2 separate regions of the Homo sapiens genome follow, and region 2 is linked to region 1. A link means that fine-mapping ties the variant in region 1 to the expression of a gene that starts in the linked region. Tissue or cell type: whole blood. Region 1 holds a variant in brackets; the other region holds the start of a gene. All regions are shown on one strand. Distances are from middle to middle.

Region 1 (5,723 bases):
ACTCATCTGACAAAGGGCTAATATCCAGAATCTACAATGAACTCAAACAAATTTACAAGAAAAAAACAAACAACCCCATCAAAAAGTGGGCAAAGGACATGAACAGACACTTCTCAAAAGAAGACATTTATGCAGCCAAAAAACACATGAAAAAATGCTCATCATCCCTGGCCATCAGAGAAATGCAAATCAAAACCACAATGAGATACCATCTCACCCCAGTTAGAATGGCAATCATTAAAAAGTCAGGAAACAACAGGTGCTGGAGAGGACGTGGAGAAATAGGAACACTTTTACACTGTTGGTGGGACTGTAAACTAGTTCAACCATTGTGGAAGTCAGTGTGGCGATTCCTCAGGGATCTAGAACTAGAAATACCATTTGACCCAGCCATCCCATTACTGGGTATATACCCAAAGGACTATAAATCATACTGCTATAAAGACACATGCACACGTATGTTTATTGCGGCATTATTCACAATAGCAAAGACTTGGAACCAACCCAAATGTCCAACAATGATAGACTGGATTAAGAAAATGTGGCACATATACACCATGGAATACTATGCAGCCATAAAAAATGATGAGTTCATGTCCTTTGTAGGGACATGGATGAAAGTGGAAATCATCATTCTCAGTAAACTATCGCAAGAACAAACAATCAAACACCGCATATTCTCACTCATAGGTGGGAATTGAACAATGAGATCACATGGAAACAGTGGCATTTCTAAATAAAGTCTGATCACAAGCTTCTAAGTGTACTAATACTTACTACATAGCATTACTACTAGAAACATATAAGTAAGATTCTTCTTCCAAAAGTTTAAGTTTCTGTTCTGGATTATAAAAGCATAAGTAGCATTATTGCTTCTAAAATTCATATTTAAGGCTCTTAGTAATAGCGATACTATATTCAGAGATGAAGAAGTATAATATTTCCTTATAATAAAAAACTCTACTATAAATTTTCTTGATTAACTTTTATCCTGTTTTCTACATCATAACTGATATTAGAACTTCCTTATTTCAAAGGAATATTTCTTATTCCTTCTTAGTCCTTAGGAATATAACTGATTTTTGTTGCTTTTGATAGGTAAGTAAATGAACAAACAGATGGAACTATAAAAAATTATTTACAGGACTGATAAATGTGCTTGCATTTGTCACATTTTAGAGCTATGTCTATGAATAGTAACTACTAATCTTTTCTTCATTTTTCTTCAGGACTGAATTTGTAAGAAAAGTTTTTGTATTCTCCTAAATTGTCACATCATAGAGACTATATTTCACTTATCAAAAAGCTTCCTGTGAGACCATTTCTCCATTGGTAAGCCTTCAAACCAGTAGGCTATATTTGCTGCAGTTAATCATATAAAACCATCTGCCAGCATTATGAGAAAATCTTGTCCCATTCAAATTCCTGAAGACATATTCTGATTACAAAATGTTTCATAGGTATTGAAGCTTAGGAAAACTAAAATTAAGGTTAGACTATATTTTATTAACAACTGCATGTTGATTACTTTTGTTAATGAAGGATAAAAAATGATCACTATTTACATTCTTATAGTTATTAACATTCAATTATCAGAAATAAAATATTGTACACAGGAATACAAGTACCTCTGGAAAGTTTACTTTCCAAGTAGAATTGTTTCAGAGTTTAAATTTGTACTGGCCAAAAAAAAAAAAAACTTGTACTGGCTTGGAACTTTATAAGTAAATTGTTATTGATGGTGGGATGGGGCTGAGTGGTAGCCAGAAATGGAAGTGTATTTTATATTCATTTGCAGTCAGCAGAAAAATCCAAAATAATCGTGGCTTAAACAAGATATTATGTATTTCTGTCTCACACAAATGTCTGGAAGTAGATGATACAGGATTGGTGTAGTCGTCTCATAATGTTGGAGTTGATATTGTGTTTTTTCTATATTTCCCTTCAATATTGTGTCCTTTCTGCATTTCCAATATCCCCCCATGATTGAATAATATTACCCCAGCTCCAGATATCTCATCTGCATTCTAGACAACAGGAGGGGTAAAGTGAGAAAGAAGGGATAAAGAACATGTGTAGCTTTCTATTGAGAATGATTCTTAATTTCTATTAAGAATGATTTGCTAAGAACACTTTATATTATTTGGCCACTTCTTATTCACACAGCTACCTTTAACTGCAATGGAGTTTGTGAAAATCTTCTTTCTTCTGAGTGTTTGTGGGTCTAGATAAAATTCAGATTTTATGACTAGCTTTATGATGAGGTAGTGAGGAACAACTACTCACTGGCATAGGTAGTCTTTAACATAAAATAATAGCTTTGTAATGCATTTTTGAAAAAAAATTGTTAATGGGGTTCAGAGAGAAATCTTGTCTTAAACCTAAGCATTTAGCTTAAAAAATAAGCTTATTGGGTATTTACAGAAAAAAAAATTATTTTTAATGAAATGGAAACTTCGCATATAATAGAAATGTCTCCATTATGTAAATTATTATTAATCCAAATAATTAATTTAAAGCATGATAGCAGCCAAATGTCAAGTTTAAATTAGCCAGCATTGAAAGAAGATTTGATATAAATAAACATGCTCAGACATAACTCATATGGGAACTTTTCAGTAATATGCATTGCTATGGATAATTTCAATTTTTTTGATCAGTTAAATATCTTTGTTTATATTCTGTTGGACAAAATTAATATTATTTTATTTAGCAAATGTAATATTTCAAAATAGAGAAATTGAACTTTACCAAAATTATTATTTTTTATTTCAACAAAGGACATTATCAATAAAGTTTAAAAAATACCTCACAGAATGAAAGAAATATTTGCAAAGCATATGTCTGATAAGAGTCCAGTATCCAGAATATATAAAGAATTCTTCCCACTCAACAATAACAAAATAAATGACCCAATTGAAAAATGGGCCAAGGATCAGAGCTCACATTTCTCCAGAGAAGATATACAAATGGCTAATAAGCATGTGAAAACATGCTCAACATCATTAATCATTAAATAAATGCAAACCAAACCTCAATAAGATACCACTTCCCACCTTTAGGACAACTATAACCAAAAAAAAAAAAAAAAAAAAA[G/AG]AGAAAAAGAAAAAAGAAAAAAAATGTTGGAAAGGATGTGAAAAAGGCAAAGCTCTTGTACATTGCTGATGAGAATGGAAAGTGGGGAAGCCGTCATGCAGAACTGTTTGGCGGGTGCTCAAAAAGTTATATATAGAATTATGGTGTGATCTGGCAAGTTTTCTCCTAGATATATACTCAAAGAATTAAAAACAGGTGTTCAAACAAAAACGTGTACACTAGTGTTCATAACAACATCATTTGTCCCAACCAACGGGGGAAGGAACCAAAATGCCCATCAACAAATGAATGGATAACCGAAATATGGTATATCCATACAATGGAATACTGTTTAGTCATAAAATGTAATAAGTACTGATTTATGCTACAACATGGATAAAACTTAGAAACATTATGTTGTGAACATACCAGAATCTCTGGGACACATTTGAAGCAGTGCGTAGAGGGAAATTTATAGCACTAAATGCCCACAAGAGAAAGCAGGAAATATCTAAAATTGACACTCTAACATCACAATTAAAAGAACTAGAGAAGCACGAGCAAACACACTGAAAATCTAGCAGAAGGCAAGAAATAACTAAGATCAGAGCAGAACTGAGGGAGATAGAGACACAAAAAACCCTTCAAAAAATCAACGAATCCAGGAGCTGGTTTTTTGAAAAGATCAACAAAATTGATAGACTGCTAGCAAGACTAATAAAGAAGAAAAGAGGGAAGAATCAAATAGACACAATAAAAAATGATACAGGCGATATTACCACAGTTCCCAAAGACATACAAACTACCATCAGAGAATACTATAAACACCTCTACGCAAATAAACTAGAAAATCTAGAAGAAATGGATACATTCCTGGACACATACACCCTCCCAAGACTAAACCAGGAAGAAGTTGAATCCCTGAATAGACCAATAACAGGCTCTGAAATTGAGGCAATAATTAATAGCCTACCAACCAAAAAAAGTCCAGGACCAGACAGATTCACAGCCAAATTCTACCAGAGGTACAAGGAGGAGCTGGCACCATTCCTTCTGAAACTATTCCAATTAATAGAAAAAGAGGGAATCCTCCCTAACTCATTTTATGAGGCCAGCATCATCCTGATACCAAAGCCTGACAGACACAACAAAAAAAGAGAATTTTAGACCAATATCCCTGATGAACATTGATGCAAAAATCCTCAATAAAATACTGGCAAACCGAATACAGCCACACATCAAAAAGCTTATCCACCATGATCAAGTGGGCTTCATCCCTGGGATGCAAGGCTGGTTCAACATATGCAAATCAATAAACGTAATCCAGTGTATAAACAGAACCAAAGACAAAAACCACATGATTGTCTCAATAGATGCAGAAAAGGCCTTTGACAAAATTCAACAGCCCTTCATGCTAAAAACTCTCAATAAATTAGGTATTGATGGGACGTATCTCAAAATAATAAGAGCTATTTATGACAAACCCACAGCCAATATCATACTGAATGGGCAAAAACTGGAAGCATTCCCTTTGAAAACTGGCACAAGACAGGCATGCCCTCTCTCACCACTCCTATTCAACATAGTGTTGGAAGTTCTGGCCAGGGCAATCAGGCAGGAGAAAGAAATAAAGGGTATTCAATTGGGAAAAGAGGAAGTCAAATTGTCCCTGTTTGCAGATGACATGATTGTATATCTAGAAAACCCCATTGTCTCAGCCCAAAATCTCCTTAAGCTGATAAGCAACTTCAGCAGTCTCAGTATACAAAATCAATGTGCAAAAATCACAAGCATTCTTATACACCAATAACATACAAACAGAGAGCCAATTCATGAGTGAACTCCCATTCACAATTGCTTCAAAGAGAATAAAATACCTAGGAATCCAACTTACAAGGGATGTGAAGGAACTCTTCAAGGAGAACTACAAACCACTGCTTAACGAAATAAAAGAGGACACAAACAAATGGAAGAACATTCCTTGCTCATGGGTAGGAAGAATCAATATCGTGAAAATGGCCATACTGCCCAAGGTAATTTATAGATTCAATGCCATCCCCATCAAGCTACCAATGACTTTCTTCACAGAATTGGAAAAAACTACTTTAAAGTTCATATGGAACCAAAAAAGAGCCCGCATCACCAAGACAATCCTAAGCCAAAAGAACAAAGCTGGAGGCGTCACGCTACCTGACTTCAAACTATACTACGAGGCTACAGTAACCAAAACAGCATAGTACTGGTATCAAAACAGAGATATAGACCAATGGAACAGAACAGAGCCCTCAGAAATAATACCGCACATCTACGACCATCTGATCTTTGACAAACCTGAGAAAAACAAGCAATGGGGAAAGGATTCCCTATTTAATAAATGGTGCTGGGAAAACTGGCTAGCCATATGTAGAAAGCTGAAACTGGATCCCTTCCTTACACCTTATTCAAAAATTAATTCAAGATGGATTAAAGACTTAAACGTTAGACCTAAAACCATAAAAACCCTAAAAGAAAACCTAGGCAATACCATTCAGGACATAGGCATGGGCAAGGACTTCATGTCTAAAACACCAAAAGCAATGGCAACAAAAGCCAAAATTGACAAATGGGATCTAATTAAACTAAAGAGCTTCTGCACAGCAAAAGAAACT
Region 2 (5,000 bases), 86 kb before region 1:
GGTGACATATTGTAATGGTTCCCATACAAGAGAATACTTTTCAGCAATAAGGAACATACTAGAAATATACACAACATGCATGGATCTCAAAAACACTGCATGGTGTGAAAGCAAGAAGAAGGACACAAAGGCTACCTACTGTATAATTTATATGAGTTCCTAGAGTGGTAAAAACTAATCTATCCTGTCAAAAAAATTAGTGGCTGCACGTGTGGAAAGAATTAAATAGAAAGAGGCACAAAACAAATTTAGTGGGGTGATAGAAATGTTTCAAGTCTTAATTAGGGTGGCAGCTACCTGGGTGAATAAATTCCTCAAAACACATAGAACTATACATCTAGAACCTGTACATTTTATTTTACATAAGTTATACCTCAACAAAAAATAAATTAAAAAAATAATATATATTAAATGTAGAAAACACAAAATCGGGCTTAATTTCACCACTTTGTTGTTGTTAATATTTTTAGTTAAAAAGTGCAGTTGTCTTATTTTGCATTTTTCTTTGGAGATACCTTCATTATTGAAACTAAAATTGCTTTCTCTTTAGCTAAAAAATAATTTCGTCACAAGATGACTAGAATCATAACATATGCATCATTTTAAAAGTTGATGGATACTATAAACAACTTTCACACATAATTCCTTAAAATAAGAATACTAGTCCTACTAATTAAAAATAAAACAATTAGATATAGAGAAAGCTCTACAATGCATGAAGTATAATTTAAATTGTCTAAATTATTACATAACATTTAATTTCAATGGGAGTTTTACTTCGTATCAGGGTCCAATCTCGAGGAAAACGACATCCCTAAAATGTCCTTGGTTTTCATAAAAGTGAATGCCATCCGATCAGCAACCCCTGAAATTTACCTAAGTGCCACGAATCCAGATTGTTCAAATAAGGTAATAGAAAACACAGATGTGAAGGTAATATTTTGTTTTTAAGTGTCTGGCTATAGTACTTCATGACAGTTTTAAACTGTACAAATTGGCAATAAGAATACCAGTTCTCCTCCAAAGTTGGAACCTGGCCAAGTATAGCAAAATTCTTAAGCATTTTCTTAAATCCAATGAGCAGACTTTACACCTTATGCGGTAAAATGGTCATGGCTTTTTCTAATTATATCCAAAGTACAAGAGGTCCTATTTAATTATGAGGAGGATTAATAGCAGAAATCGAGGGAAGAAATACCTCGTTGGGGTCTGTATGGTATGTTTACGTAATGTCAAATATGGTTCATCTTTTAAGGAAACTCAATTCAGTTGTTGGAAAACAAGTGCACAACATGTAAGAACGTCAATAGCGTTCCTTGGCCATTAAAGGGCTACAGGCTCAATGTGTTAAACGAATATATATACACACACATATATACACATATACACACACATAGATGTATACATATATACACGCGCACACACACACATATATCTCAAACTGGGTTACGGGACTTCACACAATTAGTGACACTGAAACCTAATCTCTTTTAAGGCGTTATCCTATTTAATCCACTTCAGAATGTAAGTACCAAGCTCTGCGTTCAAGACCCTGGGTTGTGACGGAAAGTCCTTCCATTCTTTATGGGACTTTAAACATTTCAGAGGTGGATCGAAAAAGCCACCAAGTCGTAATTTGTTGGTTCAAAAGAACTAACAGTACCATCCCTGGGTGACGGGTAAAGAAATAACGAACACAAAGACTCGTCATGAGTCGGTCTTCCAGAAAGACGCTGGCCCGAGACCGTTCAGCGTATTTCTTCACACATAACCTTGGAAAATCTCCTCAATTCTGAGAGGACTAGCGAAGGATAAAACCCTGTGCCAGTCCCGAGGGGTCATTTCGCACCCGGGTGCATGGGTGGGTGAACACGGGCGTGTGGGCGGAGAGGCAAAGCCCAGGTGCGGGGGCGCCAGCAGCGTCACTATAGTAATGAGAGAGCTAGCGTCATCAGGGGCTGGAGAAGGGGCAGTGGGCCACACAGGCCTAAGGGAGGAACACGTGGCCCGAGGAAGCGAGCCGGCTCCCAGGGAAGCCCGGAGCGGGGAAGTGGCTTTCCGGAGGGCTCGCGGCGTGAGTGGGGGAGGGGTGGGTACTCACTTCGATAATCTTCTCCTTCTTTTTTTGCTCCGCCTTTTTGCTGCCCCCGGCCTGAGCCTGTTTCTTGGGGGGCATTGCGGAGACAGATGGCACCGGCCAGACTTACGCGCAGCTGAATACCGTCAGGGGTTCTGGCCCTGCGGCAGGACGAGGAGGAAGACCGGGGCCTCACTCGCCGCACCGCACGGAAAGCGAGTCGCTCATTGGCCCCGCAAACGCGGCCTTTGCGACAGGTCGATGTCGCAGAGCATAGTGGGTAGCGAGGAGCGGCTCCCGGAAGCGGAGCTGCGCGTGCGCGCCCACTGCGTCCCACTAGGAGGGGGCAGGGACGGGACGTGGGAAAATGACTACGCGTCACTCGTGATGTCGCGCATCCGATAGGCCCTTTTCAGATGGCAAAAGGCCTGAGGGTGAATCTGGGCGAGCTGGTTGAGTCCATGCGTTTGTGCTTCCTCTCAGTCCACTTTCGCTTACGATGGGGCGACTCTTGTCCATCGTCACCTCACCGGGAAACTTTTCCTGCCGGGCCAGTTAATGGTCCCCTGTACCATCCCCATCCTGAGTGACTACTAAGCAGCCGCAGCGACTCGGGGTTGCTCCGTGACCACGTTACTCAGTTAACCTTCTTGTTCCCTGGAGAGGCGGAGCTGAATGGCCCGTGAGTGTCGCGTGCTTCAGATTCCTGCGAAGGATTATTTAAAAAATGGAAAAAGTTAACTTTCATTTGCAGGGTCCCTTTCATTTGAAGAGCATCTGAGATGGCGTCCCAGATAAGGAGGCACTTGAACTCCTTAGAAGTACTGTATTAAGTTATTTTGAGACTTTAGGAGAGTGCCTAGGTGATTCCTAAAAATTCCTTTATAACGTGAAAGTAACCAAACTTAGTTAGAACTTAGTTTAAGTGCTTGGTAGCTCCAGAAATTCCTTGGCACATTACACACACTATTTCATTTAGTTATCACAACGACACTTAGGTGGGAGTTGTTACTGTTTTCGTTTTATAGATGAAGCAGAGAAAGGAAGAAAGATGCCCAAAGTTATATTAAGGACAGAGCCAGCAATTGTAATCTTGGCAGTCCGGCTTCAGCCTATATGCCTATTACCTAACATTACAAACTTAGATCCTGTTTGAAAAGGTACTTGAATGATGAATGGGACCCATTGATATTTGTACAAACGAAAATACTATTTTTTAAAAATGTACAATGCTTAGCTGTTATTTTTTAAAATGATTATTGTTTAAACTATTTCTGTTAAGAAGCATTGTGGAACCAAGAATCATCTTTATAGATAAAAGTTTTTTTATCTTTTTCATTAATTTGAATAGGGAGAAAACGATAAGCCCCCCTACTTAGTCAAATTGATTATTTGCTTAGTAATTTTCTACGTAAGATAATGTCAAGGAACCCCAAGTATGTTTTGTGTGTGTATGTGTGTGTGTAGAAGAAATGTGATAGCTACTAAAAAGAATTGTGTCGAGAATGGCAGGTGTATGTTGACACACTTTTTTTCATTTGGGCTCATATTGGCAGGTTAATGGGCTCCCCCCCTTTTACATATTTTCATCTTTATTTTTTGTAATTGTCATAGTTCTTGTCAGAGGATGGAGGGATGCAGCCAGCCCCCTCTTTACTCAGTATTATTATCCATTTGATTATTTGGGGATCGTCTCCTTTGAGACTTTGTTTGCATATGGAATGTAGTTGTCTTAACTTCCTACTTTTAGTGCCCCAAAGATGCCCTTTGGGCCTTTGATTTTGAGTAATTTTACTGATTATTATTATGAGGCAAATGAATTATAAGTAACAAATATGGGGAAGTTACAAAGAATCTAGAGTCTCATAATGTTATGATAATGGCTCCAGTTTCATGGTTCATAACTTCTTCTGTCTCCTGACCTTTGCTTTCGGTTTTTTCCTCTGAAGTGTAGCCCAGGTAGAGAACAAAGATCCTTTCTTGCCTCAAGTGGAAAATACACATTTCTGAATATAGTACATGCTCTTATAGCACTCTCCCTCGTACACTATTTCTTCATACATTTTAGAAATAAGGAAGTCCAACTCATTGAATTCACTACTTTTTGAAATAAGGTACATGGTTTTTCCTGGTCTCAAATAGCAAATGGTAGCAGGGCTGGGACTTTTATGTCTTCTACTGCTATTTTTATTGACCTTACAATTCAAACGAAACTTTCACAAAACAGTGCTTAGAAGGCATAGTCCAAGGGTTACAATTCATATACCCAAGAAAGCAGGGCTATAAACTTGAGCGTCAGGATGAGTGAAATACATTAGGAAGTTGTGGGAACAGTGTTAAACCTGAGGTAAATGCCCACCGTAAAAGAACTAAAAGAAAAACTGTCAAACCTGACTGCTTCGATTTGGTAGACAGGCTGTGAATTTACTGCCTTGGATATAGCCATTTGGATAACTTTACATTTATTGGAATGTATCAGATGTAATAGATTAAGGCAGTAGATTTTGTACTGAATAGAAATTATTGTTTGCTATCCAGCATTCTAATGTCCTTCTGTATAGGAAGGAAGCCCTATGTCTCAGGCTTTTAATCTCAAGAAAACAAGACAAAGACTCAAAGTGTAGGAATTTTTCAGGGCATTAGAGTGCATGTATGGTATTACCAGTCCAGTGGCGGCAGGCCAGTGTGGCAAGATCCATACAAGTCCTTACTTCATTCTTTGCTATTATTTCTTGCTTCTTTTATTTCCCAAGCCTGATTTTCCAGGCTTCCTATAGATTCTGTGAACAATATTTCCATAAACATATTTGAAGACATAGCTAGAAGGTGGCCATCTGCAAGCCAAGAGAGAAGCCTTGGAAGAAACCAAACATGCTGACACCTTGATCTCAGCCTACTAGCACCCAAAACTATGAGAAAATAA

The links. PIP is the estimated chance that this variant, and not a neighbour inherited with it, causes the effect.
Region 2: it holds the start of ZC3H15, and the variant in region 1 is fine-mapped to the expression of ZC3H15 in whole blood (INTERVAL, PIP above 0.99).

Annotation. Positions count from the first base shown.
Region 1 is chr2:186,396,719-186,402,441 of GRCh38, reverse strand. No RefSeq gene overlaps it. Among named protein-coding and RNA genes, the nearest start is that of ZC3H15, 87 kb to the left of the region's middle. The variant G/AG (reference allele first, on the strand shown) is at 3,097.
Region 2 is chr2:186,483,559-186,488,558 of GRCh38, reverse strand. ZC3H15 (zinc finger CCCH-type containing 15) reads right to left here and starts at 2,299. Exons shown (of 10, transcript NM_018471.3): 1 at 2,102-2,299. The coding sequence starts at 2,176. It overlaps LOC105373785 (a long non-coding RNA gene), which reads left to right and starts at 2,559. Exons shown (of 2, transcript XR_001739147.3): 1 at 2,559-2,759. It also overlaps the pseudogene DPRXP1. RefSeq lists an enhancer at 2,190-2,669.